4 separate regions of the Homo sapiens genome follow, and all the other regions are linked to region 3. The links come from fine-mapping of genetic effects on gene expression. A gene starts in region 3. Each other region holds a variant in brackets. All regions are shown on one strand. Distances are between the middles of the regions. Region 1 overlaps RIN2 (Ras and Rab interactor 2). Region 2 overlaps RIN2 (Ras and Rab interactor 2). Region 3 holds the start of RIN2 (Ras and Rab interactor 2). Region 4 overlaps RIN2 (Ras and Rab interactor 2).

The links. PIP is the estimated chance that this variant, and not a neighbour inherited with it, causes the effect.
Region 1: its variant is the best candidate, but not a certain one, in a credible set for the expression of RIN2 in blood mononuclear cells (TOPMed, PIP 0.67).
Region 2: its variant is the best candidate, but not a certain one, in a credible set for the expression of RIN2 in whole blood (INTERVAL, PIP 0.60).
Region 4: its variant is the best candidate, but not a certain one, in a credible set for the expression of RIN2 in transverse colon (GTEx, PIP 0.84).

What each region holds. Positions count from the first base shown.
Region 1 is chr20:19,878,409-19,881,094 of GRCh38, reverse strand. All of the region lies in intron 2 of RIN2 (Ras and Rab interactor 2), which reads right to left. Among named protein-coding and RNA genes, the nearest start is that of RIN2, 120 kb to the right of the region's middle. The variant T/C (reference allele first, on the strand shown) is at 1,493.
Region 2 is chr20:19,941,779-19,944,464 of GRCh38, reverse strand. All of the region lies in intron 4 of RIN2 (Ras and Rab interactor 2), which reads right to left. Among named protein-coding and RNA genes, the nearest start is that of NAA20, 74 kb to the left of the region's middle. The variant T/C (reference allele first, on the strand shown) is at 1,264.
Region 3 is chr20:19,757,065-19,759,750 of GRCh38, reverse strand. It overlaps RIN2 (Ras and Rab interactor 2), which reads right to left and starts at 1,493. Exons shown (of 13, transcript NM_018993.4): 1 at 1,424-1,493. RefSeq lists an enhancer at 530-1,104.
Region 4 is chr20:19,866,499-19,869,184 of GRCh38, reverse strand. All of the region lies in intron 2 of RIN2 (Ras and Rab interactor 2), which reads right to left. Among named protein-coding and RNA genes, the nearest start is that of RIN2, 110 kb to the right of the region's middle. The variant T/C (reference allele first, on the strand shown) is at 1,501.

The sequences.
Region 1 (2,686 bases), 120 kb before region 3:
CTTCATACACTTAAGTAATAAAAGATAGCAAAAGTAAGAAACTAGATCTCTAGACTGAAACCAGTGCTTTATCCATGAAACCACATTATTTGTCACTAGTAGGACACGAAATATTTCTGGCTCTCATCTTAACCAAGTAAAATGCTGCCATCGGGAATAGTTAAAGGAAGCCATATGTTCGGTCTGTTATTTTAGACTTAGTGGGTTCCATTTCTATGGAGGTTGAAGAGAGAAGAAGAAAAGATCTTCCTTTATGGAACCAGACATTAGAGATCTCATCTGCTTGTTCACAGTGGTGTCTTTAATACCTTACGTGCTGCCTGGTACGTATGTGCTCAGTAAATGTTTGCCGAATGAGTAAGTGCATAGGATTTTACAAGGAAGTCATCTAGGCTAAAGAGAAGGGTTTTTAAAGAATGACTTTCTCGGCTAGGTGCAGCAGCTCACATCTATAATCTCAGCATTTTGGGAGGCCAAGGCAGAAGGATCTCTTGAGCCCAGCAGCACAGCAAAACCTCATCTCTACAGAAAATTAGCTGGGCATGGTGGCATGTATCTGTGGTCCCAGCCACTCAGGAGGATGATGTGGAAGAATCGCTTGAGCCTGGAAGGTCAAGGCTGCATTAATCATGCAACTGCACTCCTGCTTGGGTAACAGAGTGAGACGCTGTCTCAGAAAAAAAAAAAAAAAAAAAAAAAAAAGAATGACTTCCTCTAAAGCATAAGATGATAGGAAGAGCCATGCTTATCTTTAAGAATTCCTAGGACAGATAAACGCCAGCAACACACATACCATGCTGTTGACCCACAAAACATGCTGGAAATTTTTTTTTTTTTTTTTTTTAAGACAGAGTCTCACTCTGTTGCCCAGGATGGAGTACAGTGGCATGATCTCGGCTCACTGCAATCTCCACCTTCCTGGTTCATCAATTGTCTTGCTGCCTCAGTTACCTGAGTAGCTGAGATCACAGGTGTGCACCACCATGCCCAGCTAATTTTTGTAATTTTGTTAGAGACAGAGTTTCACCATGTTGGCCAGGCTGGTCTTGAACTCCTGGCCTCAAGTGATCCGACCGCCTTGGCCTCCCAAAGTGCTGGGATGGCATGAGCCACTGCAACCGGTCTGGAAAAAAATACATATTTTTTGATACCACTTTGAAATACCAAAGAAATGAAAGAGTTTAGGGAGTCCATGTGTTCTCTCTGTGGTTGGATTTTTCTTACAGAGTTCTATGATCTGAAGATCTTTCCTCTCTCTATAGCATACAAACCTACTTTATTCTCTACAAGTCCACTAGCCAATCATGTTTCTCAGCCCTTTCATTTTTGCACAAATTGGAATTCTAGAGAAGTCTCCGGGTGTTTGTCCAAGTCAACACATCAGCATTGAAGATCACACAATGAAAAAAGTCCACGGAAACACGTGCTAAACTCCCAGTGAAATATATCGACCAGTGAAGCAAATTGACCACGCTGTGTGTTTGTGCATGTC[T/C]TTGCATCCATGTGTTGTAGGATTAGAGCCTTAAAATTTCCATGCTTTCTCTTAGGAAGTGGGCCGGAGAACAGATAGCCTCCTCTGAAGAATGTCTTCCTTGTAAGCCCACGGATTCCATGTGGACAGTCAGCGGAAGCACAGTGTCTAATATCAAAATAACAACATACCATGACACCTTCTAAACATAGTAAATGTGCCGATAACAGGTATTAATATTTAATACCATCACACAACCAGACTCCAGAAATTAGCAAGGGAAAAGCATAAAGAAAGTAACAGTTCTCCAAAATAACTTAGTATTTTGTGTGTCTATGAAAGAGTCATAAAAATCCATGTAATGCTCTCAGAGATATCTGTTGCCATCACCAGAAAGGTGGTTTTGGTGGCAGCAATTGTGCCTCAGAAGTTCAGGCATGTTTAAAAGTCTGTCTTGGCTGACCAATGGCATTCATGTCTTTTGTTAGGAGTGACAAGGACATAGGATATTTCACAAATCCAGTTTCCTATTATTCAGTTTTGCACTATTTGCAACTACCAAATAATTTCTGCTAGGCTCTGCAGGTTCTCTGAAGCTTAGGGTTTTCCTCTCAATGTTCTACCTCACCCCATCCTCTTGTTCAGACGTCTGACTCCTTCCTCTGGCAGTGGGGCCAGACAGGGCAGGTGTGGTTAGCATGGAGCCCAAGGTACAGGGGAGGAAGCAGGATTACCTCTTATCCATTGAGACTATTTGAGGGTGGGTACAAACTCATGTCCAAGAGAGACTGCTTTGAGTCATAATGATAGCAAAAGAATTAGATTATGGAAAACAGTAAAGCACGGAGGGTCGAGTGGGCCCATGGATGGATGGTCTGAGTTGACAGTAGAGACAGCATCATTGCCTGTGTCTGGGTTTTCGTGCCACCCATGAGGATGCTGGGTGGACACTGGCATTTTCAGGGACTGAGGCAAGAGGACAGATGGAAGTTCACTTATACTTTATGTCTGAATATTAAAAAAATTATACATCAAGAGAACAAACTGTTAACTAAAGTATGTTCTATTCTCCTACCACGACAAATGTGCCTTTACGAGGACTTGGGAAACCTGGTTTAAATTTAAAATTCTCAGACTCGTCTGTGTTTTGTCCCTGAACATGGGGACATGGGGTGACCCTGGTTTGTTACACCTCTTCTCCCTCCAATAGCTCTG
Region 2 (2,686 bases), 180 kb before region 3:
AAGTCAAGAGTCTTGTGCCCACCATGGTCCTGATCTTGGGGCAGTAGATCCTTGACCATGTATCAAAAGGAACACAAATATACACCTCAAATGCCAAGCTGCAGCCAAGATGCCTGGATAGGTGGGAGATGAAGCCAGGACTTAGCGGGGTTGGGAGAAGAGAGGTGGTGGGTCTGGGATCAACAACTTGTGGAAGAATATTAGTACCAGAGGCCCCTTATGTAGAGAGACAGAAAATAATGGCCCATACTGAAGATATCTATCAACTAAAAATCTTTGGCACAGGACAAATTCCAATTTGTGTTAAAGACATACACACACACAGAGCAAACAAAAAATTCCCAGAAAAACTTCAACTTCAAAAATACATAGAAGTTGATATCCAATGATTTCTTAACACCTTCAGACATAAAAATATTTCTTTAGAATTTTGAAGTTCAGAACTTGAGTCTAGTTATAGGTAAAAAAAAAAAAAAAAAAAAAAAAAAAGGATATTGAAATGGAATTAAACATGTCTCTGTAATATTCTATTAGTCTGGAGAAGAAGGGAAACCCCAATCCATTATTCTGGACACGGCAGGACCCTGGCCTGGCTAACACAGTTGACAGCATGGAAATTGCCAGGTGAGCAGAAGAAACCTTTTACCCACCACCCAGCATGGGAAGAGTGGTGGGCAGAGAGGCATGGGGAAATGGATTGTCTTAGAAGGACCCCTGCATATTTAGCCAAGTTTTAAGGGCTATCAGAGGCCATCCAGTTTATCTCCTTATTTGAGATCAAAATGCTAGAAATTGATAAAACTGGTCCTAGGTCCAGTTTTCCGACTTAGGGAGTTTCCCTAGAGCAAGCAAGTTCATACTTAATTCCTCAAGGCCTTTTTTTGTCCCATTAAACTCTAAAAGGAAAAAGAATCACTAGCATATTTGGGGTTACAGATTTTATTCCTCCATGGCGAAGGGCTGCTGCTTTTTGAGGGTGGAGCCCCAACTTCCTCAAAAAAGATTTGTAAGAGCATGTCACAGTAGGACTATTCTGAAAAACCTTTAGGGCCTTTGGTAATTTTTAAGTTCTATCAACTGAGGCCCAGCAGAAGAGGACACAGAAATGGGAACAAAAGCTCATGTCTGCCTCCAGGGAGACGCTGCCATTTCGGGAGGTAAGAAAAAGTGGTAGCTGTTTTGCCCAGGAACTTCCTCTGGTTGACTCTCCAGCTAGAGATGAGAAGGCCAGATACAGAGCGAATGCTGGCAGAGGCTTTCATT[T/C]GTTCCTGTAAAAATAAGAAAGAGGAACAAAGAACCTGTTGTCCTGGTTGCCCTTGGAGCTGAAAACAGGCAGAAGAAGGAGCCAGGCGGGCTCCAGTCTTGGTCCCGATGCCCTTCAAGCCCGGGGCATGCACCCTGCTTCACGGAAAGGCAAGTGTTCCATGGATTGGCAGTTTCTAGTATTTAATTGCTCTGGGTTACACTGGTGTTATTTCCTAGCAGATGAATTCTAACTAAGCAGATATTTTATGGCAGAACCAATTGCCAATATAGCAGCAATGCAAAGCCTACAGAGCACAAAATAGCTCCAATTCTGGAGTATGCTGCTGGTGACATTGTGTGGCCAAGGTCAAAATAGCTCCAACTCTGGAGTATGCTGCTGGTGACATTGTGTGGCCAAGGTTTACTGTAAACAGATAAGCTAGCCACTACATTGGAAGGTGCTACCCGTCAACAAAAACAGAATCAATTTCTAGGAAACTGCATTTCTAGGATGATCAAAAACACCTTGTAGGTCAGTGAAAAATCATGCATGATCTACCATTTAAATGGATTGTCATGCAAAAACATCAGAAGGATACACATCAAAGCAAAGAATTAAATCAGCCAACCCAACAAACAATCAAAAATGATTCTATCTTGGAGTGGGGGTGGGGTCGGGGTCAGGGTGTTGTTTATTTTTATTTTCTGCATTGTGCTTTTTCCACCATGTACACGTTTTACTTTTGGCTATCAAAAAAAGAAATCTTAAATGTTTCTTTTAAAAAACTTCCCAAAGATAACAGATATCACCAGTCAAGATAGACTGAACAGCTCTTTAGGGCATTTTTTATCTTACACTTCTTATTCGTTAATGAAATTGATGTACCTCTGACCTAGAATTACCTGCTTCCCACCTGAGGTTCTTGGGACATCTGCTGTCCTCCTCTGTTCATCTGACGTATTCTATTATGTCCCATTTCGTTACATGATACTCACTTGTTTACAATTTTTTCCCTCCTTAGGTTGTGTAAATCTTCAGGCTCCACTCTCATGGTATTTTGGTAAATATGATCCACTGAATAAATACTTTCTCTTTCTTTTTTTTTTTTTGAGATAGAGTCTCACTCTGTCACCCATGCTGGAGTGCAGTGGCTTGATCTCGGCTCATGACAACCTCCATCTTTCAGGTTCAAGCAATTCTCTTGCCTCATCCTGAGTAGCTGGGATTACAGGCATGAGCCACTGCGCCTGGCTAATTTTTGTGTTTTTACTAGAGAGGGGGTTTCACCATGTTGGCCAAGCTGGTCTCAAACTCCTGACCTCGTGATCCACCCACCTCAGCCTCCCAAAGTGCTGGGATTACAGGTGTGAGTCACCCTGCCCGGCTTAAATATTTTCTTTAATTTGAGTTTAGTTGTTGCTACATTGGTGATAGTGTAGC
Region 3 (2,686 bases):
TGGGACCACAGGCACATGCCTTCAGGCCCAGCTAATTTTTGTATTTTTAGTAGAGATGGGGTTTCACCCTGTTGGCCAGGCTGGTCTTGAACTCCTGACCTCAAGTGATCTGCCTGCCTTGGCCTCCCTAAGTGCTGGGATTACAGGCATAAGCCACTGCACCCGGCCTATGAAGCAGGGTTCTAACAACACCCACCTGTATTTAAAATGTTGATTTTTGCTTATCATGAATTTTTTACATTCAATTTGGTTTTGTTAAAAAGATTGTATTAAAATACTATTTATCTTAATGATGGAGTGCTGCCCTGTGTGTTTCTTTTTTCCCAGTAAGCCCTTTGCACTCCCAGCAAGTGTTTCTTTTTGCTTCAGTATTTACAGTCCTTTTGGTCGAAGAGTACTCTGATGTTTCCTTACCGATGACAGCGTGTTCCTAAGAAACCCCAATGTGCCCAAAACCGCGCAAGGAAGTGCCGCTACACTGCGGAATTAGGAAAGCCCCAGGGATTTAAGAGCTCTGAGAAGACAGGCGCCTCTCAGGGCCCAGGGGACCGATCTTGCCCTGTATTTCTTGGCAACATATCATAGGCTTTCAAGCTGAACTTCTGCAAATCCTGCTGTCCCCGCGCGGTCGAGGGGCGCGCCACCGCCGGTGGGTGGACGCCGAGCTGGTGGGAGCCCAGGCCAAGGGTGGAGGCCAAGCCCAGAAGGGGGCGGGGAGGCCTCAAAGTGGGAAAGTGGCCCCGTCCCTTCCCGGCAGGAATCCGGGGCTCCTCCTCCGCCCGCTGCGCAGCCATCAATCACCGCGACAGCCCAAGTGCCCCCTGCCCGGACACAACAACCCTCCTGCTTTTCCACCCGGGGGAGGAAATCTCCGGTCGGAGCATCTGCCCTGCACACTGGCTGGACTCACCAGTGGGGTCCGCGCTGGGGATCAAAGCTGTGCGACACCGGGTCTGACCCGCGCGCTCAGGCGCAGGGAGCACTTGACACCCCACAGGCAGCCCTGCAGGTAGAACTCCTCAAAGGTCCCTACCAAACTCCGTCCGGTGCACACGCACGCACACCCGCACCTCCGCACCTCGAGCCATAGTGCCTGCACCCTCCAGCTGTCCCTCACCCCAGCCCCGCACAGGTCAGCTGAGGACACCCGGTGACCCTGCCGGGACCAGCGGCCACCTCGCGCTCCGGAATGTCACTCTGCCCCTTGTCCCCACTCCCTGATCCCCCTTCCCCCTTCCGTTCCCCACGATCCCCGAGGACGCGCTCTGGCTGTCTTCCTCAAGTCCCCTCCGGAGTAGGGAGAGAGTGCGCACAGCAGCACCCACGTCTGGAACCCCAGAGAGCCCCGCCCGTGCCCGGAGCCTCTCCGGGCTCTCTAGGTGCGGGCACAGGGGGTGGGGTCTCCGCTGCCACCGCCCCTTACCTCTCGCGGGCCCTCCCCGCAGGTCCCGGAGGCGGGGGCGACCGGTGGCCCCAAAGACGAGCGCGGGGCTGGGTTTCCCCGCCCGGGAGGAGCAAGAGGAGGAGGAGGAAGAGGAGGAAGGGGGAGAAAGGAGGGGAGGGGAGGGGAGAGGAGAGGAAAGAGGAGGAGGGGAGGGAAGGGCTTTGTGTTTGCCTCGGGCCGTCCCTCGGCAGTAGGGAGCCATCCCCCTCCCCCAGCCACCTTCCTGAGCTCGCAGAGGAGATGGGGCGGGGGTGATCGGATCGGAGGCAGCGACCAAGGCGCCTGCGCGACCCCAGGTCCGGCCCATCCCTCCATTCCCTGTAACCGCCAGCCTCCGCCCCTCTTGACAACCACCCGCTACGCTTACCCTGTTACAAGGAACCCAGGCTGCAACCAGGAAAAACTGCCATCAGAAAGTTTATCTAAGCCGGAGCAAACTTGGCTGGACCGGCCCCTGACCCGCCTTGGCGCTGCCGCCCCTGTCTTCTGCGGTCCCCGGCCAGGCGAGGACCAGAGTTTTGTTCTCGGAGATTCTTGCCTTTCTTGTTTTAGCACAAACGCGCACGCACCCCTTTCCCATAACGAGCCCCTCCGCCCAACTACAGATCCCGGGATCTGTTGCAGGGGCTGGAAAGGCCCCACTCGAGAGGCCTGAGCTGGCTGCGGCTCTTGGTTCCGGGGCAGGTTCTCCAGGGTTGGATACGCTCTGGACGCCTGGGCGGGTTGTTTTGCTTCGGCCTCGCTGGCCAGGGGCCCGCCCACCCCGCCTGGAACGCGGTTTGGATCGGCGCTGGGAGCCCTCCGTAACCCCAGCTGAAGGCCGCGCAGGCAGGCGGGGACGCCGGAGCTGCGGGGCCGGTTCCCAGCCAGCATCCAGCCTTTTCGGAATCAGGCGGGTCCCTGGTGATTCGCTGGGTTTTCCCACTTCCCACGGGGACCTCACCTTTGGGAATTAATTGCTGACAGTGTTAGAGTTACAAAGTAGCCAGTGTCACGGAGGGAACCTCAAAGAGACAAAGGGACACCTCGAAGGTGTCAGAGAGACGGTTGTTTTGGACAGAAACAGAACAGCGAAGCGGAAAGAAAACAGACCTTATTTCTGTTCTGTTCCACTTCAGATAGTAGCAGAGGAGACTTGGATTTCATTGGTGTTGGTTTTCGTGATTCCTGCCTTCTAAAATCCCAAGACTTATTTATCATTTATCATCAGCTCAGATCCCAGGAAAACAGTCCACTGCACTT
Region 4 (2,686 bases), 110 kb before region 3:
AGCGCAGACTCATCCACCCTGCGTGTTTCTGTATACATCACTCAGTCTCTGTTTAAAATGCCTCACCACCTGGTGAACACTTTTTTTTTTTTTTTTTTTTTTTGAGACGGAGTCTTGCTCTGTCACCCAGGCTGGAGTGCAGTGGCGTGATCTCGGCTCAACTGCAACCTCCACCTCCCGGTTCAAGCAATTCTCCTGTCTCTGCCTCCCGAGTAGCTGGAATTAGAGGCACATGCCACCACACCCAGCTAACTTTTTGTATTTTTAGTAGAGACAAGGTTTCACGATGTTGGCCAGGTTGGTCTTGAACTCCTGACCTTAGGTGATCCACCCCCCTTGGCCTCTCAAAGTGCTGGGATTACAGGTGTGAGCCAGCATGCCCAGCTAGTGAACACCTTTTTATCCCTCAAGACTTAGGTCAGAGATCATCTCTGTGCTAGCTTCCCTTCATTACCTATTCCCATTATCAGCCCTTCCCCTTTCTGGGTCCCCAAGGTCCCTCTGACAGCCTCCACAACATCATGATTATAGCTGTCTGTTTATCTCACATAGGCTGTGTGCCCCTACAGGATGGAGCACGGCCTGTTGTCGAATGTTCACGGTCTGCCCAGCATATCATAAAACCCGGATGAAACCCTAAGACCTGCCCTGCTCATTTCACGTGTTTCCTGGCCCAGTGAAAGTGTGTGGTATGAATTCAGGAGCGAATCTGTAAGAGTACTTCAAACAGTGCTGGACACTAAATAATTTACTAAAATAAAACGTTGTCCAATAAAATACATCTTCATTCCTTTGGGTATTTTACTGCATTAAGGAAAATTACCCTGTTACTCAAGCCACATGGAACCACTAAGAAACTCATAACGTAGCCAGGCGGTGGAAAGCGCGTATGTCCCAATTTCCTGTTTTTCTCCGAGACGCTGCTGCCCCAGCCTGGGTCAGGCGATGCGTGGTTTGTGGCCTGCCACTTGGGCAGCCCTGGCTCAGAAGAAAGGCCATCTTCATTTTATATGGGAAAGTTGGAGAAACCTCAGAAGAGCCGTGGTGCATAAATATCACGTCACCAAAGCAGGGAACTGGCCACACTCACAGGCCTCCTTGGGGCCTGGCTTGGTGTCAGTTCCTGCTGTGGAGCTTGGTTCGGCTCTTTGTGCACCAGCATGCCCCACGCCAGACATGACGACACTGATGGCTTTTGCAGCCCCAGCCACAGAACAGGCTGCTGATGCTGCCCTTTCTTGTCCCACGAAAACGCCTTGCAGTTCAGAGAGCAGGCCGGCTCACCCAGCTGCACAGCATTTTCAGAGCAGCTTTGGGGCCATCATCCAGCAAAGTCTAAATACCCTCCCAGTTTGATTCATCTCTCAGTTTTAGACAAACCACAACTCTTAAAATTCTCCCACTGCAGAGAAACTTGGTGGACACCACCATCTTAACTAAACTATTGGAGCTGGTGTCACCAGGAATAAAACAAACCTGCCACATGTGCCTCCTGATATC[T/C]GGGACTGAGGAGGCCACCGCATCACTCTGGGGCATTCCTGCCACGGGTGCAAAACATGAATCTACTGTGAGGAGCATCAGACAAACCTAAACTGAGGGTCACTCTACAAAAATGATTGGCCTGCATGCTCTAAAAACGTAAAGGTCTTAAAAGGCAACAAAAGCTAAGGATACATTTCAGAGTGAAGGAGTCTCTAAACAGAAGTGACAACTCAATTCAATAAATGATCCTCAGTTGGATGCTTAACTGAAAAAAAATGCTGTAAATGACATTATTGGGATAATTGGAAAAACTGAAATATGGGCAACAGATTAAAGTATTGCATCAATGTTAAATTTCCTGAATTTGGTAACTGGATTGTGATGATGTAAAAATATGTCCTTGTTCTTAAGAAGTAAACACTAAAGTATTGAGTGGTAAAGAGGCGTGACTCATGCAACTTACTGTCCAATGGTTTAGAAAAAAGTGTGTGTGTGTGCACATGAGCATGTGTGCACGTGTTGTGTGTGGAGTGAGAGGTAAAAAAGAGAAATAAAACAAATATGGTAAAATGTTAAAATGTGTTAATCTGGATAACTGACATCTTATGAGTCTCTGTACTATACTTGCAAACTTTGTGTAAATTTGAAATTATTTAAAAATGTAAAAATGCATTCCATTAAACAAAAAAAAAAATAAAAATAAACAAGATTCTTAGTGATGGTTTAACGTTTTCGCACAGCAAAACACTAACATGTGTGTTGAAAAATAAATTAATCTGGCCAGGTATGGTGGCTCACTCCTGTAATCCCAGCACTTTGGGAGGCCAAGGCGGGAGAATCGCTTGAGGTCAGGAGATCGAGATCAGCCTGGTCAACATAGTGAAACCCCATCTCTACTAAAAATACAATAATTATGCTGGTGTGGTGGTGCCTGCCTGTAATCCCAGCTACTCAGGAGGCTGAGGCATGAGAATCATTTGAACCTGGGAGGTGGAACTTGCAGTGAGCTGAGATCATGCCACTGCACTCCCGCCTGGGTGACACAGGAAGACTCTGTCTCAAAATAAATAAAATAAAATAAAATATCCAAAATTAATCTAGAAACACAATTTCACGTTAATGTTTTTTAAAAGCTTGAAATTTGATATAAAAAGCATATATGGCTATGTGTTTTGTGAATTTTGTATGCAATGTTAAAGATATA